Linked DNA regions of Homo sapiens: region 2 is linked to region 1. The links come from fine-mapping of genetic effects on gene expression. A gene starts in region 1. The other region holds a variant in brackets. All regions are shown on one strand. Distances are from middle to middle.

Region 1 (8,330 bases):
CCACTGCACTCCAGCCTGGGTGACAGAGTGATATTTCATCTCAAAAATAAATAAATAAATAAAAATATAATGAATAATGCTTCCTTAGTCATGACTATTTCAGTTAAAAAAATACAAAACACCACCCTATGGCATCCTTCAAGTTACGATGCTTCCTTTCCCCACTAGCCCTGTCAATCTCATAACCCTGGAAGGTGGCAGCTAGCCTTCACTGCTGACTACTAACACCCAACTGCCACCCAGATGGATGATTTCTCAAACTGGAGCTAGGACTAATATAGAGTCTAAGTCATCCACTTCGCTGTACAATAACCATGTTATCAGAGTGCTCTGGGTACACTAATGGTTTCAGGATTCTCTCCAAAATCCCTAGGAAGCAACAATTTGTATCCCTATTGTAGAATCTATGTTTGAAATCTGGCTACGACATCTATTAATTATTTGAGTATTAAATTATTAAGGAGGAACGTAATGAGACTGAGGCAGTCATTTATCTTCCAGACAAAATTTTGTCACTTCCTTGCTCCCATCCCCATTGGCTACCCAATGGTCACAAGCTAAAGCCTAACACAAGCATGGAAATTAGACACTATGACAAAACAGTCTATATCTAACTTCATCTCAGGCCACTCTTCCATCCACACACTGTGCACTCCCTACCCTTTAGCAATCACCCCTCTACACGCTTCTTCTCTCAGCCCTGGGCAACCACTGATCTCCTCTCTGTCTACAGTTCGCCTATTCTGGAGATTTCATCAAAATTGAATCATATAATATGTGGTATTTTGTGTCTGGTTGCTTTCACTTAGCCTAATGTTCTCAAGGTTCCTCCATGTTGTAGCACAAATCAGTACTTCGTTCCTTTTTATTGCTGAACAGCCTTCCATTGTGTAGACAGGCCACGTTTTGTTTGTGCATCCATCAGCTTTCCATCACAGTCCCTGCACACACCATAACCTGTATGTCTCTGCAGAACAAAGTCCCTTTCCACTCTTCCCTATTCCCCCACATGTGCCCTGTAAGAACTAGTCCTCCGCCACCAGGAAGCCTTCATAAATTCCCTCAGATACTTGGTTGGTCTTTCTCTGCTTTCACAGAACTCCATGATGGCAGTTATCGCACAGCACCATCATTATCTGTTTTCTCTCCCCTTCAATGGACTCTTTCTCATCTTCACCTATGTTCTTCTAGTCTGTATACTTTGTGGTGCTTTAAAAGACCAATAAAGAGTATGGTACAATCAATGCTCAATACACGTTTGTTGAATGAATCTCTCTCTCAAAGCACTGTGCTAGATTCACCCAAGTATGACAGCCCTAAATATAAAATAGTGGCAAAAAGTCAATAGAACTCTTATGTCCAGGTCCAAAGAATACATTCATTTTAAATTGAACATGCATCTTGAGTAACAGCTCCCTTCTACCTTAGCAATTCGCAAAGCCATCAACTACTCCCTTCTAATTTTACTGATCTCTCTGTGCATTACTGAATCTAGAAATCTCTTCGTGCTTGACACCAAAGCTTTTCATTATAACCCTTTCCTGATCTATTCCTCATCTTCCCAAGTTCAATCAACTGCCTCTGCCTGATGCCTGTTTCCTTCCTTTTCTTCCCACTAAGTTCCAGTAGCCATTTTTTTCAACTCCTACAGCGGCTAATATGAAATGAAATTCTCCCCAAACTTAAGTGTAACTTCTTTAAGAAAAAATTGGAAAAAAAAATCCAGTAGATGCCAGTCTTCTATTGAAAAAGACACGTGGGTATAATATAGCTGATGCCTAACAAAAGCTACTTCCTAGTCACTCCTTCAGAAGAGGGTTATCCTCATTCCATCTTCCCCACCACTGGTTTTCCAAGGCAGTCCTGAAAATTCAATTTGTGTGTCCCCTACACCTGCACTTAGTTCTCCCTTTTAAAGTTCATGGGCCAGACCATGATCTTTCTGAGGCAGTGACCTCAGGAAGGGTCTGTCTGGTTCACCACAGCATCCCTAGAGCCAGCCTGGCACAGTGCTGGCACACGATGGCCAAATAACCACCAATATGGGACGTAAGTCAGGTTAACAACAACAACAACAAAAATAAGGTCAGAGGTTTATCAAGGTACATTATAGCTGGGTGTGAGAAAACACAAAGTCCTGCAGCCTAAAAGACCAGGAATCGCTGGTGATCACAAGGAGCTACAGTGGCTTCATTCCCAGATTCTACCTATGCCTGGGATTTGCGTTTTGAGATTTCCCAGAACTCTGTCTACAAGACCTTGGCTGCAAGGAGGCAGTCCACAAGTGCAACTGGTCACTCCAATAGATGAGAAAAGGATGCACCCAGGCTGGTATCCCACATTCTGCCAACACATGGAACATAAGTCACAGAACAGAATAAAATTCCTGAATCCCAATAAGAGAGGAAGAAAAAAGTGCAGGGAAGAGAAATGGAGGTAGAGAAGGAGAAACTAAAGTCATGAGAAGTCAGAGACATATCAGAAGGGACTAGAGGGCGAGAACGCAGGCTAGCACAGATGACAGCAGGGGCTCCCCTTTACTGAAATGTACAGCGGCAGGCACCGTGCTTAACTTTACATGCACTGACCCATTTAATCCTCTTACCAAGCCAGAGGTAGAAACTATTCTCATCTCCATTCCACTGGTGATGAAACTGGAGCGGAGTGAGGTAGGGCACTTGCCCCAGCACAGAGCTAGGAAGGGGCCGCTGGGACCTGCCCGGCTCTGACTCCAGGACACCCCATCCTTTAACACTTACTACCTATTCTGCCTCCCATGCCTTCAAATAGGATTGGGAAAGGAGTCATTCACTTATCCACTCATCGAACACTGAACACCAACTGGATGAGTGTCAAGGCCTGGGGCCAGGCGCCGGTGGGCGGATGTAAGGGACGCGGGCTGCGAGTGGGGGACAGAACACGACGTCAATCTTAAGGCGAAGGAGCAGAGCCCGCGGCCAGACCGGCAGCCGGGATGCAGGGTGGGGCCGGGGGCCGAGGGCGCGGGACGCGCAGCGGAGGCCTGAGGAGGGGCGGGCGGCCCCTGTTCCCCGCTGCGGACCGCCGGATTCTGCGGGCGGCGAGCCAGGCGCTCCGTGTGTTGTGGCATTTAGTGTCCGCCACTCCGCGCGGGCGAGACCGCGGGCGAGGGAGACGGGGCGGACGGGCATGGAGACCCTGCGGGGCTGAGGCAAGGGAAGAGTGGCCCGGGGGAGGCCGAGGAGGGGCTCGGGGCCAGGCGTCGGGGGCGTCGGGGGCGTCGGGGCCGCTTGCGGCGTCGCCGGACTCACCTCCCGCGGCAGCCCCTCCGGACTCGTCGGCCCCGCCGGGCCGGAGGAGGCGGGATGGACTCCGGGCCGCGGGGGCTGCCGGGAGCCTGTTCCCTGGGCAACGGGGCCGGCACCGGGGCCAGCACCGAAGAGCAGCAGCTGGCTCCGCCGGGGGCTAGAGCGGCAGAGCCACAAGTGGCAGCGGGCGGGGCGGACGTGACGCAAATGCGTTTCCGGTGGGGTGGGCGGGGCTTCGCGTCTCCTTCTACGGATATCTGTGGACCTTATGGAAGGTGCGTGAGATCGGTTCCTTTCCCGGGGTGGGGTGGCTGTGAATGTTACTGCTTAGGCCGCAGGTTGGACCAGAAGCTCAGGAGCTCCCCGGATTACATGAGGTTAAATGGAGGTCCTCTGTCTTACCCCAGCCTAGCCCGCAGGCCCCTCGCAGCCTCTGCGAGCTGCTCGGGAGACAGTTTTGCCGAGCCTCCGTTTTTTCACATGTGCAGTGACAGATGAACGGGACGATATACGCAAATGAGTGTCAGCAGATCCGACATCCAAATTGTAATTATTGTCACTATAAATTAGTACTAACAGAGTTCACTGGGTACCAAGCCTTGCATGCTCATCTCGTCCAGAAACTCCTCTCTGAACTGCCCTCAGTCAGAACATTCTGCTTGTAATGAAAGCTGGCTTTCGCCTAGTGCTCAGTTTGCTGAGTACTGCTCCAAGCACTTTAAGTGGATCATCTCATTTGAACCTCACAGTGGTCCCATGAAGTAATGTCAACCCCATTTTGCAGATGGGGAATCGAGGCTCAGAGGGGATAAGTAACTTAGCCACTGTGCCCTCACCCTACCCTGTCCTGTGACGCTGATGACTGGTCTGTCTTTACCAGCCCTTGAGTTTCTTGAAGTCAGTTATGTTTTTGGTTCCTAAATATGTGCCCCGTATGAGTCAGGCTGACCATGAATCAGATGTGATCCTGCCCTCAGAATCTCCTGTTGGGGGGAAAACCCTTAGACAATTATAGAACAGGTGGTAAGAGCTATTCCTCCATTTACCTCATTTTATGCAAAGCCTCCTATGTGTGGAAGGTTTGAAAGAGAACGAGACATAGTTCCTACCCTAGTCGAATTTCCAGTTTAGCAGGGAATATAGACATTAAACAAGCAAATACACTCCACTGGTGAATATCATGATAGCAGAATTATAGGGTGTACCACATATCTAGTGGTGAGTCGTAACCCAACCTGGGGGATCCAGGAATACTTCTCTGTGGAAATGACTTTCTAAAAACCTAAATCAGATAATTTCACTGCCCTATCCAGAGCTCATTGCTCACTCCCCATTGTATTAGGTTGGTGCAAAAGTAATGGCAATTTTGGCTGTTAAAAGTAATGGCAAAATCTGTTACTTTTGCACCAAGCTAATACTTAGAAGTCCAAACTTCATTTTTTTATTTTGTTTTGTTTTGTTTTGTTTTGTTTTGTTTTTGAGACGGAGTCTCGCTCTGTCACCCAGGCTGGAGTGCAGTGGCGCGATCTGGGCTCACTGCAAGTTCCGCCTCCCGGGTTCACGCCATTCTCCTGCCTCAGCCTCCTGAGTAGCTGGGACTACAGGCGCCCGCCACCACGCCCGGCTGATTTTTTGTATTTTTTTAGTAGAGATGAGGTTTCACTGTGTTAGCCAGGATGGTCTCGATCTCCTGACCTCGTGATCCGCCCGCCTTGGCCTCCTGAAGTGCTGGGATTACAGGCGTGAGCCACTGCCCTCGGTCCAACTTCTTATCTTGGCCTATTAGGTTCTAGTTGTCTGATCACCTACTCACGCACTAGTCCTTTTCTGTCTATTTCATTCCAGCACACTGGTTTTTTTGTTTGCTTGTTTGTTTTGTTTTGTTTTCTGTTTTTTGAACTCACCAACCTCATTATCATAATTAGGGCACATACTACTGACCTACCCTATTTCTGGCTTTTCATCATTCAAATCTCAGCCTAAACGACACCTTCTCAGGGGATCACACTAACACAAGACCCTGTTTTATTTTCCACACACACTTAATCATGATCTGAACTGATCGTGGTCATTTGTTTATTATCTGCCTCCCCTTTGGAAAGTAAGTTCCATGAAAACGGTCCTGGTCCGTCTCATTCAATCACTTCATTCCCCCATGCCTGGCGTATTGTAGGCAGTAAGCAAATATTTGTTGTTTAAGTAAAGAATGAATGATAAATCAAGATGATATTTTAAAGTGAGGATACTAAGTATGAGGCAGGGGAGTGGGGACACACACAGATAGGAAAAATATTCCAGGTCAAAGTCAGAACTTGTACAGAGCCAGCTCTGATGCACAGAGGGCAAGTGGGAAAGGGTAGAAGCTGAAGTGGTGGGCAGAGCTTGGATAGTAGAGGCCCTTGAGCTAACAGGTGAGATACTGGGTTTTTGCCTTGTGCGAGGCCTCACAGCTTCACATATATTATCTAATCTCAGCAATCCTATGAAATAGATACTATTTTTATTCCCATTTTACAGATGAAAATGTTGAGGCTCTGAAAGGTACATTAAGTTGCCCAAGATCTCACAGCTGGCGAGCTGGGGTTCAGACGCAGGCAGTGTGGTCTTCTGACTTGAGGCATCAAACCATCCAGCTGTTGTGTGTCCTGGATTCCTCAAGAGGACTTTATCCTGTGGGCAGTGAGAAGCCTTTGTGGGGTTCAAAGTAGAGAAGGCAAGAGGGCACAGGAGGGTTCGGGGAGAACAAACAACCTGAGTTGGCTCTTGGTGGTCTGGGGGTTGCTTCCTACAGGCAGTGGGATCCGGGTGCATCTTGGAGGATGGGCATCGTGAGCCTGAGGAAGGAAGGAGCTTTCCTGCAGAGAGAACACGTGTAAAGGCCTGCAGGCACCTCAGCTTTTCAAGAGCTGCCAGTAGTTCATTTTCGCTGGATATTGACGGGGGGCCAAGGTGTGGGTTGATGTACGTGATGATGTGGAGGGGTAGCTAGGTCTGGAAGGATTTTGGACTTCCTCCTGATTACCAAGAAGGGCAGTGGCAGCATCGTGATCAACTCTGCATCTCTGTTGTCTCAGTGTCTTGAAATGATTAGCACTCATGGGCCACGCTACTCTGAGCAAATTTAAAGTATCAGAGTGCCTGAGACTAGATAGTGGAAGTACTCGGGAGTCAGGGCTAGATTATCCTGTAGGGAAGGGAACGTGAGCCATTGAAGAGTTTTAGCAGACAGTCACAACTTTACCTTATTTCCAATCTTTGGAAAACAAAGGGCTTAAGGTAAAAACTTTGTGGAGCCATTAAGCTGGAAGAGGATTCAGCTCTATCTGGTGAATTTTAAAATGTTAAAAATATTCTATATTGTCTTCTTCCAGGAACTTTCACATTCATTCAGACTTTGTAGTTTCCACATTTATTTGTCCAGTTGATACAGCATTTCAGATAGTTTTACTGTTGAAAATTATAAGGACATTTGCCCTCCAACTATGATTGTATATTCCATGATAATAATTTTGTTTCTTTTATACCCTATCAGCAAAGACTCTTGGAACTGTAACGCCCAGAAAACCTGTCTTATCTGTCAGTGCAAGAAAAATTAAGGACAATGCGGCTGATTGGCACAATTTAATCCTGAAGTGGGAAACCCTCAATGATGCAGGTTTTACCACTGCAAATAATATTGCCAACTTGAAAATCAGTTTATTGTAAGTACATATTGGTTTTTCATGCTCTAAGTTTTTCACCCTTAATAACTGGGGAAATAATGTGAATAAATTTTAAAATAAAATATTAAGCAAAAAAAGCAAGTGGTAAGATGATACGTGTAAGTATAAATTGTATTGTACATTTTAAATACAAAATTATATTCCATATATATATATATATATATATATATTTAGTTATTTATTTATTTATTTTTTTGGAGATGAAGTCTCACTCTGTTGCCTAGGCTGGAGTGTGATGGCGCGATCTCAGCTCACTGCAACCTCTACCGCCTGGGTTCAAGCAATTCTCCTACCTCAGCCTCCGGAGTAGCTGGGATTACAGGCGCCCGTCACCACACCCAGATAATTTTTGTATTTTTAGTAGAGACGGGCTTTCACCATGTTAGGCTGGTCTCGAACTCCTGACCTTACGTGATCCACCTGCCTCAGCCTCCCAAAGTGCTGTGTGAGCCACCGTGCCTGGCTATTCTGATTTTTAAAACCACAGATTCTTTGATTCTTTTGTAGTTCATAGGCATAATGATTGGGTTTTCATGCTCATGTATGACCTGTGCCTTCCTCAAACTTTGCTATGATGTTGGCACATTACCTAGCTGATATGGAAAAAACTACCATGAATTCTTTTCATCCATTTTTGGATTTTACGTAAACAAAAAACATATGTTATTGTTTCCTTTATATCTCACTTTCTTTTTCTATTTTTTATTTTTTATTTTTGGAGACGAGTCTCACTCTATCCCCCAGGCTGGAGTGCAATGGCGTGATCTTGGCTCACTCTAACTTCTGCCTGTCAGGTTCAAGTGGTTCTCCTGTCTCAGCCTCCTGAGTAGCTAGAATTACAGATACCTGCCACCATGCCCGGCTAATTTTTGTATGTTTAGTAGAGACAGAGTTTCACCATGTTGGCCAGGCTAGTCTCAAACTCCTGACCTCAAGTGATCTGCCCACCTTGGCCTCCCTAAATGCCGGTATTACAGGCATGAGCCACTGCGCCCAGCCATGTCTCACTGTCTTTCAACATGGAAGCCATGCGTGTAATGTAGAGCCACTATTCTGGTTCTGTTCTTTCTCATTGCTGTTTAATAGTGTTTACCCACATTAGACCTCTCACACTGGTTTATCAACTAAGTTATATAATATTCTCAATCTTTTGTTGTCATTTCAACAGTGTGCACAGTGTCTTTCCCAGGAATAGATTCCATCTCAAGAAACCACCTTCTTTGCTCATCCATAAGAAACAATTCCTTATCTGTTCAAGTTTTCTCATGAGATTGCAGCAATTCAGTTCCATCTTCAGACCCCACTTCCAGTTCTGGTTCTC
Region 2 (8,330 bases), 23 kb after region 1:
CGGTGAGCCAAGATCGAGCCATTGCACTCCAGCTTGGGCAACAAGACCAAAACTCCATCTCAAAAAAAAAAAAAAAAATCATTGGCCAGGTGCAGTGGCTCATGCCTGTACTGTAATCCCAGCACTTTGGGAAGCTGAGGTGGGCGGATTGCCTGAGCTCAAGAGTTTGAGACCACCCTGGGCAACATGGTGAAACCCCGTATCTACTAAAATACAAAAAAAAAAAATTAGCTGGGCATGGTGGCATGCTCCTGTAGTCACAGCTACTCAGGAGGCTGAGGCACGAGAATCGCTTGAGCCCAGGCGGCAGAGGTTGCAGTGAGCCAAGATCGCGCCACTGCACTCCAGCTTGGGCTACAGAGTAAGACTTGGTCTCAAAAATAATTAAATTAATTTAATTTAATTTAATTTAAAAAATCATGCAAGTAGAAATGACTTTTTCCCCCTTCTATCAATAAAATGCTGCCCAGAATGACTAGCTTATTTTCTTTTTAATTGAACCCAAAAGAAGCTTCTAGTATGGAGCAAGTCTGGTGGAAAAGCAGCATATCTCCCAGGAGAGAAGGGAAACGGAGCAGGGCCAATCATCAGGTGACAGTGCAGTGCTACTCATCACCATCATGAAAAACTCATGAGCGTCAGACGCGCCACAGGGATTCCTGATCAGGTAATATCTGCTATTATTATGACAAGCTCCATAGAAAAATGTAGACAGCAGGGCAGAAAGACATTATTCTTTATAAATAAAAGGTTCATCTGTGCAATATTCACATTAGAAAAATATACATTGCTTGCCATAGACCTTCTCTGGATAAAATCAGACGAATCTAGGATCTGACTCCACTTCACTGTGAGGGCTCTGGCTCCACGGTGACGACCGACTCCACAGCTTCTAGAGGAACTCCTTCTAGCGGGCCCATCCGCAGGCACGCCCCTCTGCATCAGTCACTGTGACAATGTCCTCCTCCTGAGACACTATTGTACCTGGAGGGGACAAGATAAGCCCATCGGAAGTCTGAATAAAAATCTGCTTCTGTCCCTGAGACAGTAACTCATGGCTCCCATTGGAAATTTCAAAAGCCATGGCTTCGCCGACAGCAACCACGCTCTCCAGTTCTCTCTGGCCAGAGTGCACCTCCATCCCACAGGGGAACCGGTTCAAGTCCCCCGAAAGGCTTCTGAGACACCCTTCAGTCAATAGTGATCCATGTGGGCCAGGCTGAGGCCCTGGCTTGGGCACAGTCCTGTAGGCACAGTCCACTGCCACGCTATCCACAGACAAAATTTTCTCAAGCGGAGGGGCTGCCACCTCTGTAGGCAGGACGCTGGTGGGGCTGGGCTGCTGGTGGTTCAGGTGGAAGTCACAAACCTTGCCGAGGTGTCCTGCCTCTGCATGTCCAGGCCCCCCAGGCGGCAGGGACTCTGCTCCACCACCAGATGACAAAGGGCTGCAGAAACCCGGGCTCCTCAGGCTGTCCCAGGTGTCCTGGTCTGAAGAGTGTTCCAAAGCATTCTCTCCAGGAAACGCTGCCACCTGTGCCTGGGTCAGCCTCCTAGGCTCTCCTGACTGAGCATAAACAGGCAGCCCACTGACATCCCGGGATGAGAGAGCAGCACCTATAGACCCCCTCCTGGCTTCTAAGTTAGCCAGTGCCTGAAGCTGCGGGCCCGCCTGGAACACGCTCCCATTGCCACCAGAAACCGTCGTTGTATGGCTTTCTTCAGAACGGGGAGAGACAGTCACATTTACTGGAGGGGAAAAACCTAAACATTTTGGGAAACAGGTGAACATGGCGTGTACTGTGTCATGGCCCACTCACTGCACTCACCACCCAAAACCAGCTAGGCCAAGTCACCTGCCCTGCAGAAAAGTCAAAGCATCGATGCTCCTTGCTCCTTGGGATTGGTAGCAATTTTAAAAAATACGTCCCTATTCTCTATTCACAAAGACAGATTTTGTATTAAAAATATGCTCTAAGAGCCAATCGACAGTGTGCTTTTTTTTTTTTTTTTTTTTTGAGATGGAGTCTCGCTCTGTCACCCAGGCTGGAGTGCAGTGGCACGATTTCAGCTCACTGCAGCCTCCACCTCCTGGGTTCAAGCAATTCTCCTGCCTTAGCCTCCTGATAGCTGGGATTACAGGCATGCGCCACCATGCCCAGCTAATTTTTGTATTTTTAGTAGAGACAAGGTTTCACCATGTAGGTCAGGCTGGTCTCAAACTCCTCACCTTGTGAGCCACCCGACTCAGCCTCCCAAAGTGCTGGGATTACAGGCATGAGCCACCACACCCAGCAACAGTGATTTTATGCCAATACTGAATGAATGATTGGTGATTCTTCATCAGAGTGAGCTGGAGAATCACCCAAAGAGGCCTTTCCAAATACTCACATCCACACCCTCCCAACAACCCTACCTGCAGACCTGGAATTCCCAGAGGTCCAGGCCCCTGTATTTCACAATAACCTCCCCAGGTGGTTCCAACACATGCCCCAATTAAGAATCACCATCAGGCTGGGCACGGTGGCTGCTCACGCCTGTAATCCTAGCACTATGGGAGGCTGAGGCGGGCAGATCATTTGAGGTCAGGAGTTCAAGACCAGCCTGGCCAACATGGGGAAACCCTATCTCTACTAAAAATACAAAAATTAGCCAGATGTGGTGGTGGGCGCCTGTAATCCCAGCTACTCAGGAGGCTGAGGCAGGAGAATTGCTTGAGCCTGGGAGGCAGAGGTTGCAGTGAGCAGAGATCATGCCATTGCACTCCAGCCTGGGTGACAGAGCAAGACTCCATCTCAAAAAAAAAAAAAAAGGCTGGCGTAGTGGCTCATGCCTGTAATCCCAGCACTTTGGGAGGCCGAGGTGGGCAGATCACCTGCAGTCAGGAGTTTCAGACCAGCCTGACCAAAATGGTAAAACCCCATCTCTACAAAAATACAAAAAAAAATTAGCCGGGCATGATGGCGGGTGCCTGTAATCCCAGCTACTGGGGAGGCTGAGTCAGTAGAATTGCTTGAACCCAGGAGGCAGAGGTTGCAGTGAGCCGAGATTGTGCCACTGCACTCCAGCCTGGGTGACAAAGTGCGACTCCCGTCTCAAAAAAAAAATTTATATATATAATTTTTTAAGTGC[C/T]TAGTTGATAGGTTCTGGCTAGAGCCAGAATAAAAGCCAGGACCTGTCTTGTTTTCAAATGTTAAATCTCAGCTGGCATGTACAGCGAAGTCTCATGAAAGCCAAGCCATAGATGGATGTGTCCTGGGACCCGTCTCAGCCTAACCTCTTGGGACCCTCCTGGTATAGCCTGTTTACTACCATTTGGTGGCTCTCCTTTTTTTTTTGAGATGGAGTCTCACTCTGTTACCCAGGCTGGAGTGCAGTGGTGCAATCTCGGCTCACTGCAACCTCCTGCCTCCCAGGTTCAAGCAATTCTCCTGCCTCAGCCTCCGAAGTAGCTGGGATTACAGGCACACGCCACCACACCCAGCTAGTTTTTTTTGTATTTTTAGTAGAGACGGGGTTTTGCCATGTTGGCCAGGCTGGTCTCGAATTCCCGACGTCAGGTGATCCGCCCACCTCGGCCTCCCAAAGTGCTGGGATTATAGGCGTGAGCCACTGCACCTGGCCTGTGGCTCTCCATTTTAACAAGGCACTCTAGAAAACCCTGAAGACCTCAAGACTCGCAGGGAATGAATCTGGAATGACAGAACACTGGGAGGCTGGAATGAAACTTGAGAAACCAGAGGGTCCCCTTAAATCCAGCACAGGTCACCCAACCTGAAAAATGGCAATCCTGGGTACATCTGTGCATGTCAGCAGGGCTGCCAGGCCATGGATACACCCCACAAACAGCATTTTACCCTCACCAGCGGCCAAAGCATGCAAGGGCCTGGGCTTCTCCCGGCCTCTGCTGTTGGCAGCAAGAGATTCAGTGGTATCGTTGGACAGGGCTTCTCTTCTGGGCCTTTTCACTGAGGCCAGTCCCTCCTCCGCAGCCTGTGAAGAGAAGACCCAATCAGCTAGAATAGGAAGGAATAGGCAAACCGCTACCTCCTCTTCCTGGTGTGAACAGAAGAAGCCAAACCACGCTAATTCACCGTGCACAGTCACCTGGCACCCACTTCAGCCATGCCCACCTCACGTTCCCTCTTCTCGCTGCTAGCTCCCTCTAGCTGCTCCCCATCCATGTCTCGGCTGAGGTGCTTGGGTCCAAGGTTGTCTGGGTGTATTTCTTTCTTCCGTAGGAATTCTGTGATTCCTAATGACTCAGCAACCTGAAAAGAAATGGGCCAAGAGAATAAACTTCACCCAAACAGCACACACCCCCAGAAGCACATTCACATGCAAGAATTAAACGACTTCATAGAATTAAATCTACAAAGTTCCTCACCTACTGTGAGATGCCATCTCAACAATGAGAAAGATGAAGATCAATATAATGTTAGATGGACTAGCTGATGATAAAAATGGATTATAAAAACTAGAAGGTTCTATGTGAGCACAATTTAGAGGAGGAGACCAATCTTTTTTTTTTTTTTTTTTTTTTTTTTCTGAGACAGAGTCTGGCTCTGTCGCTCAGGCTGGAGTGCAGTGGCATGATCTTGGCTTACCACAACCTCCGCTTCCCAGATTCAAGTGATTCTCCTGCTTCAGCCTCCTGAGTAGCTGGGATTACAGGCATGCACCACCATGCCTGGCTAATTTTTGTATTTTTAGTAAAGATGGAGTTTCACCATGTTTGCCAGGCTGGTCTTGAACTTCTGGCCTCAAGTGATCCACCCGCCTCAGCCTCCCAAAGTGTTGGGATTACAGGCGTGAGCCACTGTGCTCAGCCCAGAACAGTCTTTACAAAACATTTAAAACACTCTCTTTAATGCTATCACGAGCTTAATAATGTTAGCTGATACCATAGTAACTTTCTTTCCCACTATCCCTCCTTTACTGACTTCTCACTGGTCTCTTGAGAAAAACGATCCTGCCTATCCCACACCCAGATCTCCCTTCCCAGCTGGTAAAAAGGCATGGGCTTGGGGGCCTGAGCTGGATCCCAGCTTCTCTGCCCATGGCCTGGGTGATCTTGGTGAGCCACCATCTCCTGAGTCTCCCTTGTCCATCTCCCTGACTTATCCAGACAAGAGGTTACAGCTACCTGGAAAGGCTTTTGTGAAGATGAGATTTGACTCCATATGCAATGCCTACGTAAACACCAGATGTGAAAGTGCTAAGAGACAGCTGGTATCATTTATACATGGATGTTATAAAGAGAACCCCACAGAGCATGAGATGGGGGTGGGCACGGCAGGAAGGGCGGCAGAACAAGGTTAAAGGAGAAAACGGGCCATGTGGGTTCTGCGCGGACCAACCTGGATGGTGTCCCCTCACAAACGGAGCCACTGTCATGCTCCCAAGAGGCGATGGCACAGTCTGAGCTGCTGAAAAAGCCGGATTCTGTAGGGCAGGCACAGTGTGTGTGTGCCGAGTTCCGCCTCAAAGCAGGATGATACCCACACTTGCTAAACTCAAGAGTTTAAAAAACACACAGGTGACTGCTGTGGAGGGCATCTACATGAGGCTTAGCAAAAACCTTTTACATTTTCATCATATGTAATTTAAGAAAATAAGGCAGGGCATGGTGGCTTATGCCTGTAATCCCAGCACTTCGGAAGGCTGAGGCGGGCGGATCACTTGAGGTCAGGAGTTCAAGACCAGCCTGGCCAATACGGTGAAACCCTGTCTCTACTAAAAATACAAAAATTAGCTGGGCATGGTGGTGCACACCTGTAGTCCCAGCTACTCAGGAGGCTGAGGTGGGAGAATCGCTTGAACCCAGGAGGGGAGGTTGCAGTGAGCCAAGATGGCACCATTGCACTCAAGCCTGGCTGACAGCGAGACTCTGTCTCAAAAAAACAAAAACACCCCAAAAAATCCAATGTAGCTAAAGGCAATTTGATAATAACAATGACACTGAAATGAGAATTGTGTCGGAACCACCACAAACAAAAATGAATGGCCCCTATATAATCCATCCCCAAAAACCCACATAAGGAAGAAAACAGGGCTAGGCATGGTGGTTCATGCCTGTAATCCCAGCACTTTGGGAGGCCTATAAGGGAGGATCAGTTGAGCCCTGGAGTTCAAGACCAGAGTGGACAACACAGCGAGACCCCTTCTCTACGAAAAATTTAAAAATTAGCTGGGCATGGTGACACACGGCGGTAGTCCCAGCTACTCAGGAGGCTTATGTGGGAGGATTGTTTGGGACCAGAAGGTTGAGGCTGCGGTGAGCTGTGATTGTGCCACTGCACTCCAGTCTGGGAGACAGAGGGAAACCCTGTTTCAAAACAAAAAAAAAAAAAGAAGAAAATGATACCTGAGGTTTTAACTCTGATCATCAGTGAGTGGGAAGATTATGGTGTTTTCCATTTTCTTCTAGCTTATCTTCATTTTTGAGTTTTCTGGAAGAGCATTTATTGCTTTAAGAAAAAAAAAACTGGGGACCGGATGTGGTGGCTCACACCTGTAATCCTAGCACTTTGGGAGGCTGAGGCAGGCAGACTGCCTGAGCTCAGGAGTTCGAGACCAGCCTGGGCAACACGGTGAAACCCTGTCTCTACTAAAATACAAAAAATCAGCTGGGCATGGTGGTGTGCGCCTCTAATCCCAGCTACTTGGGAGGCAGAGGCAGGAGAATTGCTTGAACCTGGGAGGCGGCAGTTACAGTGAGCTGAGATCACACCACTGCACTCTAGCCTGGGTGACAGAGCAAGACTCCATCTCCCAAAAAAACAAAAAGAAAAAAAAATTTTCACTTGATGGGAAAAAGCTAAAATGAGGTCGAACAGGAAAATGTCATTACTAAAAACATTCTCCTTCATACATGGAGTTTTTTTTTTTTTTGGTTTTGTTTTGTTTTTTGAGACAGAGTCTCTGTCACCCAGGCTGGAGTGCAATGGTGCAATCTCAGCTTACTGCAACCTCTGCCTCCTAGGTTCAAATGATTCTTGTGCCTCAGCTTCCTGAATAACTGGAATTAGAGGCATGTGCCACCACGCCCAGCTAATTTTTGTATTTTTAGTAGAGACTGAGTTTTGTCATGTTGGCCAGGCTGGTCTCAAACTCCTGACCTCAAGTGATCCACCTGCCTCAGTCTCCCAAAGCACTGGGACTACAAGCATAAGCCACTGCACGTGGCCCTTCTTTCTTCTGGCTAACTCTATGAGCAAAACTCTTTCTGCCATGGGAGATTGTTACCTTATCATTGTTTATTTCCAGGGTCTCCTGGGAACACAGACCAGAACTACTGAGGTAATCTTGGCACATTTTCTTAACCATTTTATGCAACTCTTCAAATTCCTTATATATAGCTGGGAAAAAAGGCTTTGCTAGATGATCTTTTTCAACCTTCGTGAAGATAAAGACCAAAAAAAAAGTTTAAACTCAAGGCACTGATATGGAAAATACAGAAGAAAATCTAAACAAAGTTTCGGTTCCTTAACCCCTCAGCAGCCCTCAGTGGTGTGCGTTTCCTTCAGTCCCCAGTGAGCACCTACTGTGTGCCCCGCATGGTGCAGAGAAGCCAGGATGGGCATGGGAGGAGCAGGCCAAGAAACAAACAAGCCCTGGGTGGGGGCCATGTAGGGCATGGGTGAGCTCCTGGACAGGGTGGGAAGGGAAGGCAGAAAGGCCCTGAGCCCCGGCTGGACTGTCAGCTCCAGAGGGAGTGTGGGGCACAGGCAGCCTGGGCTGCAGCCTCAGAGTGGGCTCAGAAGGAGCAGAGCCGCGGGCAGAAGAGGCCAGCTGGGGCGAGTGGGTTCTAGGAGAGCCCAGGATAGCCATTATTTGTGGCTGCCACTTCCATTCCTCCTGTACCAAGTTAAAAGTCAAGGGAGTAAACGGGCACCTGCCCGAGACACCCAGCTACCCAGGCAGCGGCCCCCACACCAGGCACGGTGTGTGACCAGCAGGCTCACTTCAGCTGTCCTGCAAAAGGAAAACGATTCCAAATGGCCTGGCTCTTTCCAAAACAACTATGAGCTGGGCACGGTAGCTCACACCTATAATCCCATCACTTTGGGAGGCCGAGGCAGGAGGATTACTTGAGGCCAGGAGTTTGAGACCAGCCTGGGCAACAAAGCTAGATCCCATCTCTACAAAAAAAATTTTTTTAAATAAATTAAAAATTAGCCGGGTATGATGGTGCATGCCTGTAGTCCCAGCTACTTGGAAGGCTGAGGTGGAAGGATTGCTAGAGACCAGCAGTTTGAGGCTGCAGTGAGCTACGATGGTGCCACTGCACTCTAGCTGGGCGACAGAGCAAGACCCTGTCTCAAAAA

What was found. PIP is the estimated chance that this variant, and not a neighbour inherited with it, causes the effect.
Region 2: its variant is the best candidate, but not a certain one, in a credible set for the expression of CINP in lymphoblastoid cells (TwinsUK, PIP 0.53).

What each region holds. Positions count from the first base shown.
Region 1 is chr14:102,358,077-102,366,406 of GRCh38, reverse strand. It overlaps CINP (cyclin dependent kinase 2 interacting protein), which reads left to right and starts at 3,517. Exons shown (of 5, transcript NM_032630.3): 1 at 3,517-3,562; 2 at 6,820-6,988. The coding sequence starts at 3,556. TECPR2 (tectonin beta-propeller repeat containing 2) reads right to left here and starts at 3,466. Exons shown (of 20, transcript NM_014844.5): 1 at 3,291-3,466. LOC124903427 (small nucleolar RNA U13) reads left to right here and starts at 7,505; the gene lies at 7,505-7,608. RefSeq lists silencers at 2,933-3,022, 3,063-3,472.
Region 2 is chr14:102,334,757-102,343,086 of GRCh38, reverse strand. It overlaps ZNF839 (zinc finger protein 839), which reads right to left. Exons shown (of 8, transcript NM_018335.6): 5 at 7,249-7,398; 6 at 4,134-4,271; 7 at 3,864-3,993; 8 at 720-1,764. The coding sequence ends at 908. Among named protein-coding and RNA genes, the nearest start is that of ZNF839, 19 kb to the right of the region's middle. The variant C/T (reference allele first, on the strand shown) is at 3,133.